Linked DNA regions of Homo sapiens. The protein of the gene in region 3 interacts with the protein of the main gene of each other region in a biochemical or structural test. Each region holds a gene or a part of one and is shown on either strand. Other genes may lie near its edges.

The links.
Region 1: the proteins of LYN (region 3) and SKAP1 form a complex in vitro, tested with the Homo sapiens proteins (one study listed by BioGRID).
Region 2: the proteins of LYN (region 3) and EVL form a complex in vitro, tested with the Homo sapiens proteins (one study listed by BioGRID).

Annotation. Positions count from the first base shown.
Region 1 is NC_000017.11:48,427,415-48,431,367, reverse strand, and holds the start of SKAP1 (src kinase-associated phosphoprotein 1), read left to right. Parts: upstream 1-1,153; 5' UTR 1,154-1,247; coding exon 1,248-1,293; intron 1,294-1,435; exon of another isoform or gene 1,436-1,758; coding exon of another isoform or gene 1,759-1,782; intron 1,783-3,953. UniProt on the Homo sapiens protein: Positively regulates T-cell receptor signaling by enhancing the MAP kinase pathway. Required for optimal conjugation between T-cells and antigen-presenting cells by promoting the clustering of integrin ITGAL on the surface of T-cells.
Region 2 is NC_000014.9:100,138,267-100,141,645, forward strand, and holds part of EVL (ena/VASP-like protein), read left to right. Parts: exon of another isoform or gene 1-631; intron 632-1,067; exon of another isoform or gene 1,068-1,098; intron 1,099-2,913; coding exon 2,914-2,980; intron 2,981-3,379. UniProt on the Homo sapiens protein: Ena/VASP proteins are actin-associated proteins involved in a range of processes dependent on cytoskeleton remodeling and cell polarity such as axon guidance and lamellipodial and filopodial dynamics in migrating cells.
Region 3 is NC_000008.11:55,994,703-55,998,424, forward strand, and holds part of LYN (tyrosine-protein kinase Lyn), read left to right. Parts: intron 1-3,643; coding exon 3,644-3,722. UniProt on the Homo sapiens protein: Non-receptor tyrosine-protein kinase that transmits signals from cell surface receptors and plays an important role in the regulation of innate and adaptive immune responses, hematopoiesis, responses to growth factors and cytokines, integrin signaling, but also responses to DNA damage and genotoxic agents.

The DNA.
Region 1 (3,953 bases), on a different chromosome or scaffold from region 3:
GCACCTTTAAACACTCACATGCACACTGGCACTTCTTTTTATTTTCTTTCTTTTTTAAGAGACAGGGTCTTGCTCTGTTGCCCAGGCTGGGGTACACTGGGGTGATCATAGTTGGCTGTAACCTCAGATTCCTGGGCTCAAGTGATCCTCCTGCTTCAGCCTCCCAAAGTGCTGTGATTACAGGTGTGAGCCACAATGCCTGGCCTCTTCCCTCCTTTTCTGGTATTCAGCTCCCTTCTTTTATCAACCATAGCACTTTATACTTTTTTCATGGCAGTTGACCTATTGTACTTAAAAAACCTCTTTATTTTGAGAATTATAGATTCACAGAGAGTTTCAGAAATAATAGAGGAACTCTGTCTACCTTTACCCAGTTTCCCCCAAGGGTAACATCTGGCACTATTACAGTACCATGTCACAACCAGGACACTGACACCAACTGTCCCTTGAATGAGACCGTGTGATTTTGTCCTTCACTTTCCTCCCTTCCGCAGCTCCTGGAGGGAAAGGGCTCTGTTCTCCTCTCCCTCAGCTTTCTCCCTGTGTTACCCCTTCCTTTCCTCAGGGCCTTTCCATCCTGAGGGAGAACAGCACAGTTTGGTTTCCTGTGTCCCTTGCTGCCACGCTGCCGCGATTCTCCCAAATGTTGGTGTCCTTATATTGCTTATTGGGAATTAATCATTTCCTTTCAACATTGTGGCTTCCCAAAGAGCGAAGTTTTGCCCTCTTTTCTGGGGATGGAGATGTGAACTGGACCGGCAATTGAGGGGTGCTATGCTTGACGGGGATCTCTTCCTTGGATTCTGCCTCCCTGCACCCTACTTCAGGCACCCCGTGGTCTTTCAAATCTGCCACCGTGAGGTCAACTGTTCGGTGCTTAGGATGGAGTGTCCAAAGCCGTGGGTCCTTTGAGCCTTGTGAAGTCTTTTGTTTTGGTGGGTGCTGGAGGGGCGCACCTTTGGCCTCGCACGGTGCGGTGCTTCCGGCACCCCCAATCCTTCTACCGTGGGGCTCCGGCGTGAGCGCCACGTGCACCCACGCCCCGCGCCCCGTTCCGGTCCCCGCCTGCCGCCCGCGCCACTTCCTGACGCGCCCGGGGACCCACGGCCCCGCCCCGCGGCCGGGCTGGGCGGGCGGCGACCGCGGCTGAGGTACAGGTGCCTCGCGGTGCAGCCGGGTCGCCTTCCAGCCCGTCCGCCTCCCGACCAGGGCCCGCGCCCCGTCCCGCCTCTCTCCCGCCCAGCCAAATGCAGGCCGCCGCCCTCCCTGAGGAGATCCGTTGGCTCCTGGAAGGTAACGCCCTGGCGCAGGCCCCCTCCAGTGCTGAGCCGAAGGCCGAAAGGGGACACCAGGCCTCCCACGGCCAGGCTTTCTTTACGGCTTCGTCACTCACCTCCTTCTAGAACCTTAAGGCTTCTAGAGCCCTCAACTCCCTAGAGCCAGCTTTCCATCCTCTCACCTCAGGGCCCCTTTCACTCCCTGGAGTCCCACATCTTCTTTTGCCTTGAGGCACCTCCACGCCTCCACTTCACCTCCCCGGCTTCTAAAGTCCTCAGGCCAGGTTCTTGGTCCCCCATGCCACCTTGCCTGGTCTCCGACCTGTCCCTTTCTCCAAAGGACTGCCCTACATCTGTAGGGTTTCCCGTCCCCCTCCTTCCCCAGCCACGACTTCCTCACCTCTCACAGAAGACCCCAAACCTTCCTGCTTAGAGGTCCCCGAGGCTCTCCAGGGGGCTGCGAGGGGCTCATGGGATCCCCATGGGCCAAGGCCAGGTGGTTGACGTGAGTTTTTGTCAGTGCGAAAACCCCAGCCCTCCCTTTATCACCCTGCAGACGTCTAGGGGTCTCACCCACCCCAAGGCAGGCTCATTCTCAGTATGGGATTTCCTCCTTTTCTAGAAGTGCCCCCATTGTGGTGTGTTCACCTTCCAACTCCCATTGTGGTGTGTTCACCTTCCAACTACAGTGTCTAAGCGGTGGTTTAAAGAGTTCCGGCCATCCCCGTCAACACTCAACACACACTGCCAACACTCCAAAGAGATGTCACAAAGAGACGTTGCTAACGGGCAGTTTCATCTGCTGGGTTTCGTGGTGGAAGTCACTTTTACTTGCTTTCCTGTAACTAACCTTCCAGGGAGGACAGAGGCCTGGAATCTGCAGTCGCATAAGGCTCCCAGGAGGAAACTATTCAGAATTAAGCCTTTTGGCATCTAAGTTGACATAGTTGACACATATTTAACAGACGGCCTGCTTTGGGCAGGTCATATTTTTGGCAAGCAGTATTTTTTTTCAGTTTCTCTCAATTTAATTGGTTTTATATCTCCATTACCTTGTTATCTCGGTATAAATGCCTCCTAATCAAATATTTGGCAAGTCCTTTTGGTCTCTGTCTGTAGCACTATTTCCATTCTGGATTGCTTCTATGTAAAAGCTGTCAGCTAGATATTTCTTTTGAGGTGAGGTTTCCAAAATCCGTTTTACTTACGATCAGAATAAATCTAAATTTTGGGGGTAGAAAACTATTTGCAGGGTAAAAGAGAATTATCTGGGTGTCTAAGAAGAAACAATCCAGCCTTTCCCTCTGTTGTTGGTTTAATATTAGGCTTGTGAAGGAAGGCTGTAATTGTCTTTGGTTTCTAGGAAAGAAGGGACTGTGGCAAAAAGTTTAACTCTGCCCTTGCATTGAAATATATAAACTGATTCTTTTTATTGGTATCTGTCATTTGATGAGAGGAAACCTATTTTATAAGCTTATTAAACTATACTTCAGTTTTGTGTCTAGGCTTGGTAGAAAATTCCTTTTTATTTTCAGAGGCTTGCAATGAAATCCATTCCTTCAGCATTTTTGATGTGCAGTTCTTCATTGTTCAAAACTGACACTTTGGTAAACAACTCATTTCTGCACCTGCCACCTTCCTTTAGCTTAGATTATTTTCTTGTTAGCTGACTGTTTTTAATTGAAGTCTTCAGATCTCCTTCTAAAGCAGAACCTTTGTTTGCTGACAAGTAGAGCGGGGTATGAATGGAGATTAATTGCATGTCGCATACTTCTGTATCAAGCTTGCTGTATCTTAACAATCTCTGTTGGTGCTCAGGTCTTTAAAATATATGGAGGAGTCTGAAACCAAATTATAAGGAGCTTCGTTGGTTAATGTATTTCTTTAAGGCTTTTTTTTTTAAGTTTGCAATTAGAACTTGAATCTGAAGTAGAGAAAAAAATGTAAAGTGTGATTCATCCAGTAATTCTATTGAAAAATGTTTGAAGATATGTTTTTTAAAGGTTCCTGTAATAATAATAGCAATATATTGGTTACAAGTTTTATTTCTTTTGGAACACAGTCGCTGGTGTAGACCAGGAGGATTATTCATTGTGTTACAAATAATCTGTCCATATTAGAAACCCAAAATGGCCATCAATTTGTTGTTTGTTGCTATTTGTCTCCCCCACCACACACTTTTTAAGGTTAACTGTTGACAATTAGAAAAAATGGAGGTCCTGATCTCTATATAGTCACTCTGTGGGAGGGAGTCACAGGATGTGAGGGCTGCAACTCTAGTGCTGCCACATGGCTGTGGGGGTGGGGTTTCCACAATGAATTACTACTTTCATAAACCAAGGCATAAGCATTTGCACAGTGATTTAACACTGGACATCACAGCCATAACTTAAGCATTTATTTATTTATAACTACACAAGCATAAATGACAGGGGCATTTTTTGACATAATGTGTGTGCTTTTAAGAATAAAATATGTAAAGCATTGTGAAAGGTAGATAACAAAATTTTGCATAATGAAGAGAACAGAAATTCCCAAGGCCTAAAATTAATTTTGTTTAAATATAAAATTTGAGACACTTGGAAATGTTTCACTCGACCTAGAAACCTCACTTCTAAAAATCTGTCACTGAAGTGAAAGGTCATGAAGTAGTATATGCACGAAGATCTATGCTAA
Region 2 (3,379 bases), on a different chromosome or scaffold from region 3:
GAGCCCTACCCCTTTCCTCCAGCCCAGAGTCCTTCCTCTGCGGCCGGCACACAGAATCAGTTTCCCCACAGACATACTGACCATATTTCCCAAGCCAAAAGCTGGCATGACAACATGATAGAATATTTGGAACTGAGATTGCCCAAAAAGGCAGAGGCAGCCAGCCACATAGTATCTGGAGGTACATGTGGCCTGAATTGGAAGGCCTCTAGAACCTGCGTCAAGAATGTCTCCATCGCCACCACAAATTGAAGGGAAACCACCCTTATCACAGAGCAGGAGGCATTGAAACTGGCCTTGCAGAGCTGAACAGGTGGTGAGAGCAGAGCAGTGCAGGTGGACAGAGATGAGGAAGTCTTAGCAGTCAGCTGGGGTTTGTCCAAGGCTTGTGGTCAGCCAGGCCGTGTGCTGGGGACAGTCCCTGCCTGCAAAGAGCACCGTGTGAACAAGGCCACTGTGGTCCTGAGGGGTGCTCTGGACAGGGTGCAGGGCCACATGGTGGAAGGGACAGGGTGCTTTGCGGAGTGGGGTGGGGCAAGCCTCTGTCGGGAGCTGGCATTTTCGTTGACCCGGACGAGGAGGAGTCTGCTCTGCGGAGATCATGGGGACAGCCTCCCAAGCTGAAGGAAGGGTAAGTGCCAGGGCCCTGAGCCTGCAGCCACCCGCCAAGCTCCCCCGCACCTCCACCTGGAAGCAGACAGGCCATGGGGCAGGGGAACGGGAAGGGTGAGGAAGAGGGTGTGGGGGAGCGCGGAGTTAGAAGTTTGCATTGTGTTCATGCGCAGGGCCCAGTCATGGAACTTGAGGCACAGGGTGCCATGGTGGAGGCTGGGAAGGGGAAGGCAACCAGAGTGGGCAAAACGAGGGCCCTGGAGCAGACACGGCAGCAAGGGGAGCCTGCAGCGCTCCCAGCGGACTCCGCCACGTCCTGCTGGTGGAGCAAAGGCGGGCTGCCATGTTGTGAGTGGCCAAGGGTCGCTCACTGGGCAGGAACATTGTCAAGGCCATTCATGCTTGGAATAGGGTCTCTCTTCAGCTCTGAGGCAAATCTGTTCTCTAATTTTCAGATGACTTCAAGGGGAACGTGTACCACCACCCCTCTGGTGCGTCACATTGCTTAGGAAGCCTGCTGTGTTTATCACTGGGTGGCTGTCAGGGCTGAGATGGAGAGGGCCAGGGCCTGGCGAGGTGGAGCAGTCGGCCCAGGTGTCCCAGCAATTGTTGCTGGAACAGGGTCTGGAACCCACAGGAGAGGCCTGAAGGACCCAGGGCCCTCTGGCTGGATGCGTTTGCCTATCAGGACCCAGAATTACTTACAGACCTGTTTAGGGCTAGGCTTGGCCTCTTTCTTGAGCTCATCTGGAGGGGTGTGGCAACACTCATTCTTCATCCTTATTCTCCCTGGCTGTGGGCAACACTGGTCCTCAGTGTCACCAGATGGTCCTCCTCTGTGCCCATGACCCCTCAGCAGCCAAGGCTGGCCCTGCCAGATAAATGTGTGTGCCCATGATCACACCCAGGGGCACAGGCCACATACGTTTCCCTGAAACCTTGGGCTCCAGCCTCCATCCCGTCCATGTGGGAGGGAACTTGGGTCCCAGCAGTGTGTCTTTCAGCACCAAGTCATGTTTAAAAGACCAGAGAGACAAGCATTTTGCCAAGATCTTCCAGGGAAGATGCATGTGTGACACATTAACATTCAAATCAGGCCAGCGCGGTGCTCATGCCTGTCATCCCAGCACTTTGGGAGGCCGAGGCGGGAGGATCACTTGAGCCCAGGACTTGGAGACCAGTCTGGGCAACACAGTGAGACCCCATCTCTACAAAAAGTTAAAAAAGAAAAAAAAAAGGGCACATGTCTGTAGTCCCAGCTACTCGGGAGGCTCACTTGAGCCTGGGAGGTTGAGGCTGCAGTGAGGCATGATACGCCTCTGTACTCCAGCCTGGTTGACAGAGTGAGACCCTGTCTCAAATAAGTAAAAATAAAATTCAAATCGGTTACCTTAGTTTGGAAACTTTTCAAAGAAGTAGTCCACGAGAACTACCTTGAAAGAGCAAAACCAGCCAGGTGCAGGGGCTCACGCCCATAATCCCAGCACTCTGGGAGGCCCAGGTGGGTGGATCTCGTGAGGTCAGGAGTTCAAGACCAGCTTGGCCAACATGGTGAAACCCCATCTCTGCTGAAAATACAAAAGTTAGCTGAAAATACAAAAGTGGCACATGCCTGTAATGCCAGCTACTGGGGAGGCTGAGGTAGGAGAATTGCTTGAACCTGGGAGGCAGAGGTTGCAGTGAGCCAAGATTGCGCCATTGCACTCCAATCTGGGGAACAAGAGCAAAACTCTGTCTGAAAAAAAAAAAGCGACACCACATGGGAGGATGTTTCTTGGGGGAGGTGTGCTATGCCCGAGCAGGCTCCAGCACCAGGGGCGCTGGTGTGTCAGGAGCGCGCCTCCAGGCCGGTGTGAACTCTGCAACTTCACATTGTGCCTCCTGCCGCCGCTGCTGCTTCCCCGAGCCCCAAGCTCAACCTGGAGCATGAGCTCCCACCCTGAGGAGGAGGCTGTCAATACTGTGTTTCTTTCCAGGGAGGCAACGGGTGGGTGCGATGTTGTCACTTAAGTTGCCACCTCTGCATAAGAGCTCTCTGATCAGAAAGCAGTTTCTTTGTTGACCCCAGCCAGCCTTGGCTCTCGGGTTGGGAAATACAGTCACGGTATCCATGGAGACCTCTTGAGGTGGAGACGGGCGTTAAATCCTTCTCAGGCAGTCTGAGGTGGCCAGAGTCTGAAGCAAGCAGCCTCTATGGAGCGAGGGGAGCAGGTGGGCCCAGCCTGAGCGGGGCCTCTGCACAGCCAGCTTTCCCCCACACCTGTCTCCAGCCAGGGCACCCACAGGCCCTTTCTCTCCCAGGATGAAGCCTGCTGGGAGCGTGAATGACATGGCCCTGGATGCCTTCGACTTGGACCGGATGAAGCAGGTGAGCATGCCCTGTGCCCTTCCCTCAAGAGGCTGAGGGCAGCCAGCAGGCGGGGGACCGTCTCTGACCAGCATGGCCAGGCAGGCCCTGGGGGCCCACATGTAGCTGCCAAAAGGCCAGTCAGGGAGCAGCCACGGCAGAAAGGGGGTGCCCAAGCCTGTCCTTTGTCCCCAGCCCCTGCCATCACCAGAACTAGGATGTCCCTCAACCTTTCTGGGCACCTCCCTCAGGCCTGCCTCTGGGGCTTTCTGCCCCGAGGAAGCCCTTAGTTTCAGTGGCGTCTACCTGAGGGAGGTGGCAGCAGGATTTTCCCAGGCCTCCCATGCCGTCCCCCCTCAGCGTGGGAAGGGGGCCACGAGGAGACAAGGGTGACAGATGCAACTCTGGAGAGGCCCAGGA
Region 3 (3,722 bases):
AGCTTTGGCTTCTTTGGGTTCTTGGCCCAGTTTATATATAATTATTGGAATGTTAGGTAGATAAGTGTCTAAGAGCTAAGAATTTTTAAAGGCTGCACTACCATGGAGTGGAGCCGGGAGGCTGGGACAGAGTCAGCTATGACCGCTCAATTGCTGCTGTCTCATCTGGGCTCCTGTAACCAACTCTGGTCTGTTTGAGCCAGGCATCGTGGTTCTATCGCCAAAAGCCTACTGTGTTATAATCGTACACTCCTTTCTTTCACACATGCTCAGCCTGATCTTCGCTCTCCACTTTTCCCAGTTTTACTGGCTTTTTCTAACAAGTCTTGTTGAACTTGGGTTACCAGCAGACAAAAGGAAACAGAGGCAGGGCTCCTCTCTCCCAGCCGCCACCAAAATTGCCACCCCGTGTCATCTGTTTCAGTAGTGCCCACTCTAGAAGGAGCTATCCTGAACTTCCTGACGCCCTCACCATGCCACTGCCTGCTGTTTCTGGGCAGCAGAGGCTTCCTAGAGAAAGTCAGACTCAGGAGCTCTGCCTTCACCTGGTTATCACCACTGCCCACCTTCTGTTGACTTCCCATCAAGGCTGTTTGAATCTTTTCCAGGGTCAGGTAAAAGCTGTGCATCTCCCCAGTGCTCAGGGTTTGTGACAGTTGGGAGAAAGGCAGGGGACACGAAGTCACTGCTCTCCAAACCTGCCCTGTCCTTTTCCTACTGTCCGTCTGGTTTCTGCTCCACTCAGCCTCTGTCCCACTTCTCAAGTCCCTCATGAAATGAAGCCTCCTGCTGTGCTTAGTGCTGTGCTGTGCTCAGTGCTGGGATGGGTTCATGTTCCTGCAGAAATTGTGGACAGGTAGTCAGGTGAGGAGCAGGGAGCACTGGGGATGCATGCACACCTGGCAGGAGAGGGTATGCCAGGCATGGCTTCCGGGAGAAGTAAAATCTCAGCTGAGACAGGCAAACTGCATAGGTCGGGTGAAAGGGGCAGGGAGGGAATGAGCGTTCCACACAGAGGCAGGGGGTGTAGAAGCACAAAGGAGGGGGTCGTGGTGAGGAGGTGGAGGGCTGAGCCGGGGCCGGGTCATACGGGGCCTTGGCAGCAGTGCAAAGGAGCTTGGACCACATTCTTTGTTTCCACTCGGAAGTGAAATACTGGACTGAATAGTCTTTGAGACTGATGTAGGCCACACTGATTATTTTACTTGAGATTTTTGTGACCATGAGAATATCATCTGCCAAATCCCTGTAGTAGTGGGCTAACAAGATAGTATTCTGGTCATGTGAAAACCCCAGCCCATTTCCCAAAGGACTTACTTTGTCTCTGATAAGAGGTTTGGTGACAAGTTTGAAGGCTCCAATGTATACAAGTGAGAATAGAAAAGATATTTTCAGCCCTAGAGGTGTTTATCAACTGGCTAACATGACACCACTGAGAGCATTAAACAGCATAAAAATAATGACAAAGCTGTGATCAGCAGCTGCAGATGGTTTTTGTACACATTGACCATCTAGGGTGAGTAAAGGGGAGTTCAGGGAAGGCCCACGGGGCAGAAGGTGAGGCCAGGGATTGGCCTAGAGGGGAAGCAAAGGCAGACCCAATACCAAGGAGCTAATCTTTTGCTAAGCAACGTGGTCTGGAACTGGCGGCCTGAAGTGCTTGATTACCAGGGATACTGTTGCAGATGACTGGGGAAAGTCAGATCCTCCAAGCCGAGCCACCTGCAATTCAAGGTAGAATCTGGCAGAATACATTCATTCCTGTGTGAAAAATTCGAATCAGAGTTTTCTCTAACTGCTTACCAGATAAACTACTACTTGGCTTTCTTTACTTCTTGCCCTTTTTCTTGCTTCTTACTTCCCTCCTTTCCTCCTCTCTCCTTGTTTCCTTCCTTCCTTCATTTCCTTGTTCCTTCCTTCTTTCCTTGCTTGCTTTCTTCCATCCTTCCTTCCCTCCTTCCTTTCCTTTCTTCCTTCCTTCTCCTTAACTTTATAATTTGGTAATGTCTTCCTTAAAAACCTGACTTTGGAACGATACTACACTTTCTATTCAGCAACGAGTAGTAGTTTTGCCTCCCTATGTTATTGTTGTGTTTAAATCCTGGATTCTTTCCTGCTGTCATACTTTGTCATGAGAGTGAATCTTGCCGGGCGTGGTGGCTCATGCCTGTAATTTCAGCACTTTGGGAGGCTGAGGTGAGTGGATCACCTGAGGCCAGGAATTTGAGACCAGCCTGATGAAACCCCATCTCTACTAAAAATACAAAAACTAGCATGGTGAAACCCCGTCTGTACTAAAAATACAAAAATTCGCCAGGCATGGTGGTGCGTGCCTGTAATCCCAGCTACTCGGGAGGCTGAGGAAGGAGAATCACTTGAACCTAGGAGGCGGGAGGTTGCAGTGAGCTGAGATCATGCTACTGCACTCCAGCCTGGGGGAGACAGTGAGACTGTCTCAAAAAAAAAAAAAAAAGAGTGAATCTTTGTGATTGTCCTGGAGGGAATGTGCAGAGAGAACTTGGAGAGCCAGTTCCATGGGCTGTTGATTAACCTGACAGAAACGACATCCTGTTCTTGATACCTTAATAATTTATTTGTATTAGCATGTCACTTTCTCCAACTCTATTTTCATAGTTGGTTCAGGCTGCCATAATAAAATTCCATAGACTGGGTGGCTTAAACGAGAGACATTTATTTCCCACAGTTTAGGGGCAAGGAAAGCCCTGGCAGGTTTCATGTCTGATGAGGGGCCATTTCCTGGTTCATAGATGGCACCATATAGCTGTGTCCTCACGTGGTGGAAGGGGCAAGGCAGCTCTCTGGGGTCTCTTTTACAAGGGCACTAATCCCATTCGTGAGGGCTCCACCGTCCTGATCTAATCACCTGCCAAGGCCCTGCCTCCTAATACTATTGCCTCGGGGTTCAGGATTGCAACATTTGAACTTTGGGGTAGGGGGCGGGGAATGGGACACAAACATTCAGACCATAGCATCTGTTTTCTGATTTGAGAAACTGGCATAATAACATCTATGTATCTACATGGATGAATTTAGCAGGGTCTTGAAAAGATTCTTCACACATTAGAAAATGTTAAGACATGGCCAGGCGCGGTGGCTCACGCCTGTAATCCCAGCACTTTGGGAGGCCAAGGCGGGCGGATCACGAGGTCAGGAGATCGAGACCATCCTGGCTAACATGGTGAAACCCCGTCTCTACTAAAAATACAAAAAATTAGCCGGGCATGGTGGTGGGTGCCTGTAGTCCCAGCTACTCGGGAGGCTGAGGCAGGAGAATGGTGTGAACCCAGGAGGTGGAGCTTGCAGTGAGCCAAGATAGCGCCACTGCACTCCGGCCTGGGTGAAAGAGCGAGACTCCGTCTCAAGAAAAAAAAAGAAAATGTTAAGACATGTTCCTTTTTTTTTTTTTAAGATGACCATTGTTGGAGATTTGGCAGAGGGTGGTCAGTTATTTTAGAAAGGGCTCAAATGGTGATTGCCATTACCCACTGTCTTTAAAAGCTGAATGATCAAAATAGTATACATGAAAAGATTTCAGGAATTCATAAGTTTTCCGGTTTTCCTTGATGGCACTTTCCAGTCACCTACCCTACATATGAAAATGGGAGCCTATTTCTGTTTTCAGATTGCAGAGGGAATGGCATACATCGAGCGGAAGAACTACATTCACCGGGACCTGCGAGCAGCTAATGTTCTGGTCTCCG